Linked DNA regions of Homo sapiens. The protein of the gene in region 1 interacts with the protein of each later gene in a biochemical or structural test. Each region holds a gene or a part of one and is shown on either strand. Other genes may lie near its edges.

Region 1 (3,658 bases):
CTAACAGGATGCTATTTACAGTCTTCATGTACCTCGCTTAGTGGGAATATTCATGTTTGGTGGCAAAAATAATTCATGTGTTTTTGACTATAGAGTGCCTCCAAAGACCCTGCTGTGGATAATAAGCAATTTGTAGAAGATACATCGTAACTACTTTTCTGAAGTTGGAAGAATGCTGACTTCCAAAAACATCTGGCCCCAAGGATTTCAGACAAGAAATTGTGAACCCATAAGTTGTTTTTCTTAAATTTGGGAGTATTTATTGATCCCCTAAGGAAACGAATGATTCGTTCAGTTCCTTCTTCTTCCCTTACAAAGAAAACAAAGCGGGGGGAGGGACAAGCAAAACAAATGTAAACTGTGACTCTTATTGCTAATAAGCTGTGGCAGAAGCTGTTGGGGGTCTGAGTCTTCAAAAGGAGCAGATCTTTTGGAGGACAGAAATCTGGATCTGTACCTTTCCTGCAATTAAAAGAAAAAAATATGTATCAGAGATTTCCCCGTGCAACTGCAGTCCTCCTCCTCTCTCCCTTTGCAGTGGAGCTGCTGATCAGAATGTGCTTGCAACTCACAGGACCATAGCGCCACCTTTCTTGCAGATTTGGAATAAATCTTCACACGTCCAGGTTTGGAATTAAATCACACTATCAGCTCACTTGCCTGTGTATGCCGTTCAGTTAGCTAGACTTAGCAAGGAAACAGTTCCTTGACGCTCAAATCATAAAGGAAGAGCTGCAAAGAGGGCAATAAAAAGTGTTTTCTTCTCTTGGTCCCTGAGCAATTAAATTGGTAACCTAATCTGATGTTAGGGAGTATAGACCATAAACTGTGTTTAATTAGTTTGCACCCAGTGTCATTTCACACAGTAGACACTTTAATTTACAACTTGCTGCACTGCAGCACTTTTCTAGGCCTTTTACTATGTAATAAGGCATTCTTGTAGCTGCTGAGGCTTTACAAATATAGATACACTTTCTTAGTTCAGATTTTTTCTTTCTTTTCAATTTTCAGTTGCAAATCAAACATGCAGTTACAGAAGCAGAGATTCAAAAATTGAAGACCAAGGTAAGCACCGAAACATGGTGTTTGAATTTTACTTTTTAAACTTCAGATACTATGAATAAATCCAATCCTAGGACTAAAGGTTTTGTCCCTGTATATTTGAAAGAATGCAAATGTGATAGATTCATTTTCACTGTCAGGTACGTAGACAAACCTGCCAGTGAGAGCAAACACCCACATCCCCCTCAGTGCAAATAACACAATATTTTAGATATATATATTTATGTATTTGCACATATGTGGCCTCTGAGATTTCCTTAAAAAGTAATATTTTTAATGGTTCAAGTATGCAAAGTATGTTTTGATTACTAATTCCTTAAGCAAAGCTACTATATCTCCTCTTCACTTACCTTATTATAAATAGATTTAATCATTTGTAGGAACAAATTTAGTATAGCACATCAATGTTTTATAAACCATTTCTAATTTCTAATAATTAAATCTTATAAACTTAATACATGCATAATTTAAGTGCCAGGTACTACTGGAAATTTTTAGTTGTTTGGTTCACATAATTTAAATTTGTGGGGGAGAAAAGGTCTTGATAAAAGGGAGTATGTATTATTAGTCTATATATTTTCATTGACAAACTTTAAGGCACTCGTATGAGACACAATTCTAGCAATTTTGTTTAGTTTTATCAAATATACAATTTCAAAGATTTAAAAATATATTTTAAATTACTTTTAAAGCAATATTCTTTATTGTTTCAATGGTCTTTTAAAAATTAAAACATAATTACCCTCCCCCGCCCCCAATCACCACCACCACTACCACTAATGATCTCTTTTGTTGTTCACATTGAACACTTGTTTTGGTTTCTCCGTGTGTTTTAAATGGAGATGAATTAGCAAGGCTATTTTGGTTAAATGCTATTCTCAGCTAATTCACTCTGCAGCTCTTTAGTCAAAATACGACTATACATCATTCACGGTGTTAGTCCAGCTCCGTGAATAATAATTTTAAATTAGTGGCGGTTGCTAAATAAACAACTTGATACAAAACATTGCTTAATAAAAGATGCAGTAAATAACCTATTCCTGTTTTAAATTGTCATTGTCTCTTGACATAGAAAGAATTGAAGATTTTTTAAATTGTTGTTTTAAAAAGATCTCTTTTTCCCTGTGATTGTGTTTTAATGGCGCTTATGTATTAGACTATAGACATTTAACTTAGAAAATACTATAAATTAGCATTTTATATTTTTTCATCATTATATTGGCATGTAATATCCACAGATTAGCACTTTATTATGATTCTTTATTATTCATTTTGATAATAGAATTCCTAATCTTGACATTGTTTTGGATGCTTTCTAACTTTGTAAACTGTTTTGCAAATGTGTTTAGTTAAAAATATTTGCAAAAACATAGATGTGTGTGTATATAAATACATGTTTACTTTTGCTAAGTGCTATATGATTTTGAACATTGATAGTTTATAATGACTTTGCATCCTTTTGAACTTTAAAGAAGGCATATAAAGTAGATAAAGTACCAGTTTGAAGGCCAGAGAGTTATTGGGAATGACTTTTGAGCCCTCACCTAAATGATCAGTATTGGATTTCTGTAGAAATGAGGGTATTAGACTAGTTTACTATCTATTCCTAAGAGTCCCTAGAAGCAGAAAAACAAAAAGCTGGTTATGGCTTTCTGTTCCGTGGGAGGGAATTAAATTAACCAAGCAAAAATTTATACTTTTACTTACACTATCTTTTATATTTTTATGGGAATTGAGGTTTATAAAGCTTGAGAAATTCATTACACTACATGTAAAATAATGAGCTATAGAATATGTTCATGTTCCTTGAAATAAAGAATGAAATAAGATCACCAAAAGGGTTAAAAGCAGAGTGAAAGTGGTTAATGTTTATCAGATGATTCTTATGCCCAAGGAGCTATTTCAAGCATTCTGATGTGTTATATCACAATTCTGTTGTATGGATGATGTAATTGAGTCTTGGAGAACTTCAATTACATGTCCAAGGTTTAATGGCCAATAATGACAGAACTGGGATTCAAATCCATGCTGAATGACTCCAGAGATCCCCTCTTAACCATTAAGCCATACTGTGCTTCTAACTCCTCTCTCCTCCCTGGCCCTCTCCACTCCCTTTTTAGTTAATTTTTTATATATAATTATATATTTTTTAAAAACTCTCAAAACATGTTGACATTCGTTGGATATATCAAACTCTGAAACATCTTTTACTGCTCACAGAATTTCAGATCACCTGGTGTGATGGAAATATCGTGTGAGGTGGAATCCAATCCATGTTTTATCACTTATCAAATGTGTGACCTTGGACAAATCATTTCACTTTTCAAGGCTTCCATTTTATCATCTGTGGAATTATAAAAATAATACCTGCTTTTCTCATCTCAAGTGGATTCAGTGATTGTTTATGATAATAGAACTTGATCTACAACATGCTATAAAAATGAGAGATTTTTGCCACAAAAGTGGCCAAATTATCTTTGCCTTGACGTTTGCTTTCTCCAGCTGCAGGCAGCAGAAAATGAGAAAGTGAGGTGGGAACTAGAAAAAACCCAACTCCAACAAAACATAGAAGAGAATAAGGAAAGAATGTTGAAGT
Region 2 (3,658 bases), on another chromosome or scaffold:
TTGTTTTTAAATTTTTCTCTTTCACTCACTCTTCTTTTTCAATTAAAAAATTAAAGTTATGAATGCTTATAAAATGAATCCAAAAGCCTAATAATAATTTTTTTGAAACCAGACCCTTGTCTCATCCTTTCCTTTAGTCAATTCCCACTCCCTAGAGGAATCCACTTAATTTTTAAATTGTTGAAGTCCTCTGATGTTTTAACTTCATATTATTAATACAAAGCAAATCGTTTATACTATTACTTGATTTTTCAGTTTGAGAAAGTATGAATTGAAATGGTGAGGGATGAGGTTTAGTGAACACAAAACAAGCATTGCATAAAGTCAAGGTGATATACTCAGTCAGAATAGATTTCTGCCACAATACATGAAATTTGACTCCTAACATTATTCCTTTAGGAATAACATTATTCCACTCCTATTATGTGGATATAGAAGTCCTCTATTAATGTACAATTGGGTCATCTGATAATATTAGGGAGATTGAGAAATACTTTGTTTGTTGAATTCCTTGATTTAGGTTAGATTATCAGGCAGGCACTGAGCCATGTGGAATCCTAAAGAAGTAGGGGCACAGGATATGTAAATATTGATGTGAACAGGGAGAAAATAGGTTCAGTGTGTGATCCTGTCCTGTGAGGGGCGGTGGGAAATTGAGCATGGGAAGCAAGGCTGTCTTTTTTACTTTAAGGCTGATCAAAGACTGTTCTTTCACCTGAATTAAATCTAAGGCACAAATCATGTTGCTCCCTTATTTATCAAACAAAAACAATACACAAATTGGACCTCTTCTTTTTTGTCATATTTTAAGGCTCACATTGGGTGCTACAGGAATCATAAGGTGGTACAGGGACCTATAATGAATGTAAAACTTCTATTTGTTTTGCTAAGAAGATAGATTTAAAGGCTTTAAAGACTTTATCCTAATGAATCAATATTCAAATAGTTGAATTCCTCTTCTTCCTTTCCTGCTTGCTCCTAGTTTAAACTGGCAAGACCACAAAGTTAGCAAAATTCTGCCTCATTATTTATTCCAAAGGCAACACTTAAATTTATTCTTTGCCATAATGAGGCTTAAACTGGGCAGATTGAGAAAGAATGCTGGCTACAGAGTTCCAATAGCAGGATTAGTTAATCAGATATCCTGGTTGATTTTAATTGAAAACATTTGCCAACTTACTGTGACAACAAAAGGTAGATTCACTTTAAATTGCGTCTATAGAATTGTGGTATACTGTTGAATAAAAAAATTTAATAAATTGCGTAGTATTTATTTATTTTTACTTTAAAAACTAACTTTGACAGATCAGAGTCAAGGAATGTGTTTATAATGGACACTTCATCCAAAGAAAATATCCAGTTGTTCTGCAAAACTTCAGTGCAACCTGTTGGAAGGCCTTCTTTTAAAACAGAATATCCCTCCTCAGAAGAAAAGCAACCATGCTGTGGTGAACTAAAGGTAGAGCAACCAAGAAGTAAATAGTGTTGATGCTCTTAGTTTTCTGTCCAGATATCATCTATATAATGAAGTTAGAATGAGAATTGTTTTCTCCTTTAAAAAAAAAAAAAGATCTTAGATGCAATTTACTAAAACCACACCTTGCCAGGCGGTGCAAGCAATCTCTACCTGACCATGTGGGTTAAATTACTTTCCTGGGCTCATTTAAATGCCCCCCCAAACAGAAAAGAGAGAAATAGTAGAAACTAGTATTTATTGAACTTCTGCCATGTGCCAGATATTAAGCCAAGCACAGATATAACATTTAATTTGTGAAACATCACATTACTCCCATTTTGCAAATAAAAATGGGAATAATGTTACAGAGTAGGGAGAAGAGTTGCTTTTTTTTTTTTTTAGGATTGTTGTATCAAACAATAGTTTTTAGTTTTTTGAGGAACCTCCATACTATTATATTTTCCAAAGAGACTACATCAACTTATGTAACCACTAACCATGTACAAAGATTCCCTTTTCTTTACATTCTAACCAGTTTTTATTTTTTGTTATAGCCAACAGATGTGAAGTGATATGTCATAAAGATTTTTATTTGCATCTCCATAATGACTAGTGATGTTGAGCACCTTTTTCATATACCTGTTGGCCATGCCTTCTTTTAAGTAATGTCTATTTAGATTATTTGCCCATTGTTAAAATCATGCTATTTTTCTTTGCTATTTAGTGATAGAAGTTTCTTTTTTTTAATTATTTTTTAATTATTATACTTTAAGTTCTAGGGTACATGTGCACACGTGCAGGTTTGTTACATACGTATACATGTGCCATGTTGGTGTGCTGCACCCGTTAACTCGTCATTTACATTAGGTATATCTCCTAATGCTGTCCCTCCCCGCTCCCCCAATCCCCCGAGAATAGTTGTTTCTTAAGGGATGCTTTGTGTGCTCCTATTCTTTCTTTATACAAATATTCACTCAACAAATCTCTGCTTTTTTCATATAAATGCTAACCTTCCCTATGAATGTTCTATCACAGACCCATGTCTATCAAAATATATAAGCTAGATATCAAAGACATGTTTTCCATTGAGAAAAATATTTGACTATGAATTTAATAAGTATAAACATAAACACAAGGAATAATAGTTGCACTTTTTCAGTCTGTACATTATGTTCCCGGCTGGTGCATGCACCACCCTGTGAAATACATAATCCCAAGTGCTGGACTTGTTATAGGATGTCAAGTGTTTGGCTTATGGTTTCATTTACTTTCTTACCAATGAATGTCTCACCATACACTGACTCTTCAATGTAAGACTCCTTTGAGTGCCCCTCTGGAGCAGAGTGGAAGAAGACAAAAGATAATTCAATACACATTTCGCATAAAAACCAAATATATATTTTAAATTCCAAGAGAATTTGAACTGTTGAAAACTTACAGTGCTTAAGGCTGATGGAAACCTCGAACAGTGTTTGAATTAAAGTTTCAGTGATAATAAAGTTGATATTATACATTGTTCTTTGTTGTTTGTTTTGTATTTGTTTGTCTATTTACTTAGTTTCCAATTGTGTGTCAAGCTGGAGTCAGACTAAGTGTGACCTGTCATATTTTCCAGGTGTTCTTGTGTGCCTTGTCTTTTGTTTACTTTGCCAAAGCATTGGCAGAAGGCTATCTGAAGAGCACCATCACTCAGATAGAGAGAAGGTTTGATATCCCTTCTTCACTGGTGGGAGTTATTGATGGTAGTTTTGAAATTGGTAGGTATTACAGATGCCTGACTTTAATTTTAAGCCCAAGATCTTCTAGGTGTGGCTAAAGAACACCTTCTGCATTCTATTGTCTGCTGGGATCAGACTCTATTCATAAAATCTTTTTTTTTTTTTTTGGACAGAATTTACCATGATCTTATTCTACAGGAGAGGCAATTTTCTCAGAGCAATCAACAGTAAATTTTTCTCCCCAGGTGTTTGGTATTGTATGGTTCACACAATTCAGAGTTCTACATCAGAGTAAGTGACTTTCTTGGAGGAAAGGGTGAGATGCTAATTGGTATTTTGAGTTATAAATATGTAGAAGTATCTTTACAGAAGAACAATACACCCTGGGAGCACTATGATTCAATTTTAGAGGTGTGGAATAATCCAAATGCGCTCTACAAGAATTTACTGCAATGATGAATAGAAGTTACATCATAAAAGGGAT
Region 3 (3,658 bases), on another chromosome or scaffold:
TTTAGTGTCAAATGAACGTGTAAGTAAAAATTTGGCAAGAATTTCTCTGCATTAGGGGAAAACATTCAGCAGGACCTGATCTCATTTTAAAATGCTGATTGTAGCCCCACAACATATTCCTGATTGTTTTTTCTTTTTTACTGTATTAAATCGCAGATCAGCTATACACACTTCTGGTGACTACATTTTATGAGTTGCTTTTTGTTTTTCTTTTTTAGGTGGGCGTATTATTGATAAGTTTTTTTTGTTTTTTGTTTTTTTGAGACGGAGTTTTGCGCTTGTCACCCAGGCTGGAGTGCGGTGGGGTGATGTTGGCTCACTGCAACCTCTGCCCCTGCAGGTCCAAGCGATTATTCTGCCTCAGCTTCCCAAGTAGCTGGGACTACAGCATGCCACCACGCCCCGGCTAATTTTGTATTTTTAGTAGTTTCACCATGTTGGCCTGGCTGGTCTCGAACTTTCCATCCTCAAGTGATCCACCCGCCTCGGCCTCCCAAAGTGCTGGGATTACAGGCATGTGCCACCGCGCCTGACCTTGATATGATATTTTCAAAGAGTCCTTTAGGTCATTTTAATACAAACATGCCATTTAATGTAAAACAGAAATATTGATTTTATTATTTGGACGGTGCATATTCTTTCGGTATGTTTTCTTGGATTAACTTTTGCTTAGAACTAAAAACCAAAGACTTCTACTTTATCCCCTGTAGTGACCCTGTTGGCCACATTCTTGTGGCTTACCATAGTGTTTTGATCATTTAAATTGAAGCTAGTTTGTATGAGTATTCTGGAAAATCCGGTAAAAGCTTCTTACTTAGATGAGTGGTTCTCAAAGAGGGGTGGGAAATGGGAGTATAGCAGAATCATCTGGGGAACTTCATTCAAACTATAAGTGCTAAGTTTATTTTGGAGGAAGTGAAGTGGAATGAGTAGAATCTAATGCATTTGGGAGGAGGTTAGTATGGAAAACTGCTGCTGGGTGAATAAGAGTGCCAGCTCTGTTCCCAACCACAGTCTTGATCCAGGTATTTAAAAACTGGGATGTGCCAGTTGATATAGTATGTCTATTATGTGTCATATATGTGATAATATGAAACTGTTTAGAATTTGCTTTTTCCTGATTATGAAAGGGCAGCATTCTTTCAAGAAGTCCCCTGTAATTCCACAATCCAGAGATAACCGTTGTTGAAATTTTGATATATTTTTGTTTAAAGATACTTAACATACTTTGTAAAATTCACATGCTTTACATCATTAGAATATTCTTTACATAGCTTTATGAGTTAATTTTTCATGTAGTATTACATCATGAACATTTTCCCTTGTCATTGAAATGTCTTCAAAAATACCGAAAAGCGATTTGCTGTGTGATAGAAAAGTTTTTCTTAAAGTATTTTTTAACATATTACCACGAAGCTGAACTTGACTATTACAATATGAGTTGTAGAATATTAGCACTGTGTAAAGTTCCATAGCAAAATGTGATTGTGTTACATTTTTGGCCCACTTACAGTTTTATGAAAATCGTGGGATGTGTTTGTACCTGTTTTGTTTTTTAAATTCATTTTTCATTTAACTTTGACCTGTCAGATGTCTGAATTTGTGACACTGCTTGTGATCTCTTAGTGCGTATCTCCCTTTTCTTTCTTGTGAAACAGGTATAGTACTCTTAAGATTTAGTTAGGCTGACAGACTACACTTTTAACTTTTCCTATTCAAGACAGGCTGGAATGCAGTGGCTTGATCATGGCTCACTGCAGCCTCGACTTCCTGGTCTCAATCGATCCTTCTGCCTCAACCTCCCTAGTGGATGGGACCACAGGCACATGACACCTTGGCTGGCTAATTTTTTTTATTTTGGTAGAGACGGGGTCTCCCTATGTTGGTTGCCCAGTCTGGTCTTGAACCCTTGTGCTCAAGCAATCCTCCAGCCTTGGCTTCCCAAAGTGTTGGGATTACAGGTGCGAGGTGCTGCGCCCAGCCTGTAGTGTCCTTTTGAAGGTTAAAAAAAATGAATGGATTTGAAAAATGAAATCGATTAATGAAAGCATATTAAAGCCCTCCATTTTAAAATGACAGCTTTATCCAGATATAATTCACATACCATACAGTTTGCCTATTTAGAGGATATGATTTTTAGTATACTATAGAGTTGTGCAGCCATCACCACAGTGAACTGTATAATATTTTCAAACACATATACCCCCCAAAAAACCCTGTTCCCGGTAGCAGACACCCCATTTCTCTCCATTCCCTCCCGGCCCCCACTAATCTACTTTTTTTTGTCTCTTAGATTTGCCTATTCTGGACGTTTCATGCAAGTGAAATCATACAATATGTTGTCTTTTGTGACTGGTTTCTTTTAATGTTTTTAACATTCATCTTTGTTGTAGTATGTATCAGTACTTTATTCCTTTTATGGCTGAATAATATTCCATTGTATGTATACACCACATTTTTAATTCATTCATCAGTTGATGGACATTTTGTTTTCTTTCGGCTATTGTGAATACTTGTAGTGCTGCTATCAACATTTGTGTAGAAGTTTTTTTTTGTGGGCATATACTTTCAATTCCGTTGGGTATATAGCTGGGAGTGAGATTTCTAGGTCATATGGTAGCCCTATGTTTAACTTTTTGATGAGCTGCCAGGTTGTTTAAGGCCTCTTTACTGATTAAATTGTTTAATTCTGACCCAGCAACCTAAAGGTTAGGTGGTTGGAAAGAAGTGTCAGTTGTTGCCGACAACCTCCACTTCTGTAGGGAAGGTGTTTTGTGTGGATGTGCAGCTAGACTTGTTAGAAAAAAGAGCATGTTGGGGAGTGGGGGAGATCACCCGAGGAATATTTTATCTCCTTGATTCTTCTGGATGAGATACTAGAGGAGACATAAGGTCGTGGCATATTTTTTAACTGATTCAGAGATTAGGTGTTTGTTTTCTCTGAATTAAGTTCAGCAAGTAAGGGAAACTGACAGTTTGAAGAAGTAGCCCAGAGGTGTTTTTATTTTGCTATCTGAATGCAGACCTGGAGCTTTTCTGGTAAATATCTAAATCCAAGATGAAGATTCGTTGGGATTTAATACATTATTTAAATTGAGTCTAGAGACAAAGCCACATTAAGAGTCAGGATTAGTGGGGAAGATAGTTGCATCTAGTAGGTCTTTTTCTTCCTTATTCTCCACGTTTATTACTTTTAAAAGAGTATACATTCCAATGCCATGCATTTTTAATTTTTTTTAATTAATTTTTTTTTTTTTTGGAGGCAGGGTCTGGCTCTGTCACCCGGTTGGAGTGCAGTGGCATGAACATGGCTCACCTGCAGCCTCAACCTTCTGGGCTCAAGTGATCCTTCTACCTCAGCCTCACAAGTAGCTGGGACCACAGGCATGCACCACTAATTAAAAAAAATTGGTAGACACAGAATCTTACTTTGTTGCCCAGGCCAGTCTCAGAGTTCTGGGATTACAGGCACCCAGCCCCATTTTCAAACATTTCTAACAGGTAAAGTAATACAGGTATGAAGGAATGTTAAGATTCTTAGAAATACTGACTTAAATTCTGTTATGTATTTCTGAAAGGTTATTCTCGAATGTTGGTGGCATATAGGGAGGCAAGGGGAAGAAATAGTTTGTAAATGTCAGTAGGTTTAGCAGTGGTG

The links.
Region 2: the proteins of PPP1R9A (region 1) and SLCO1C1 interact in a test that uses a peptide from one of them, tested with the Homo sapiens proteins (one large-scale study listed by IntAct).
Region 3: the proteins of PPP1R9A (region 1) and PPP1CB interact in far-western blotting, tested with the Homo sapiens proteins (one study listed by BioGRID).

What each region holds. Positions count from the first base shown.
Region 1 is NC_000007.14:95,246,462-95,250,119, forward strand, and holds part of PPP1R9A (neurabin-1), read left to right. Parts: intron 1-93; coding exon of another isoform or gene 94-150; exon of another isoform or gene 151-521; intron 522-538; coding exon of another isoform or gene 539-626; intron 627-1,011; coding exon 1,012-1,065; intron 1,066-3,564; coding exon 3,565-3,658. UniProt on the Homo sapiens protein: Binds to actin filaments (F-actin) and shows cross-linking activity. Binds along the sides of the F-actin. May be involved in neurite formation. Inhibits protein phosphatase 1-alpha activity.
Region 2 is NC_000012.12:20,698,247-20,701,904, forward strand, and holds part of SLCO1C1 (solute carrier organic anion transporter family member 1C1), read left to right. Parts: intron 1-1,305; 5' UTR 1,306-1,330; coding exon 1,331-1,459; intron 1,460-3,071; coding exon 3,072-3,213; intron 3,214-3,658. UniProt on the Homo sapiens protein: Mediates the Na(+)-independent high affinity transport of organic anions such as the thyroid hormones L-thyroxine (T4), L-thyroxine sulfate (T4S), and 3,3',5'-triiodo-L-thyronine (reverse T3, rT3) at the plasma membrane.
Region 3 is NC_000002.12:28,754,805-28,758,462, forward strand, and holds part of PPP1CB (serine/threonine-protein phosphatase PP1-beta catalytic subunit), read left to right. Parts: intron 1-3,658. UniProt on the Homo sapiens protein: Protein phosphatase that associates with over 200 regulatory proteins to form highly specific holoenzymes which dephosphorylate hundreds of biological targets.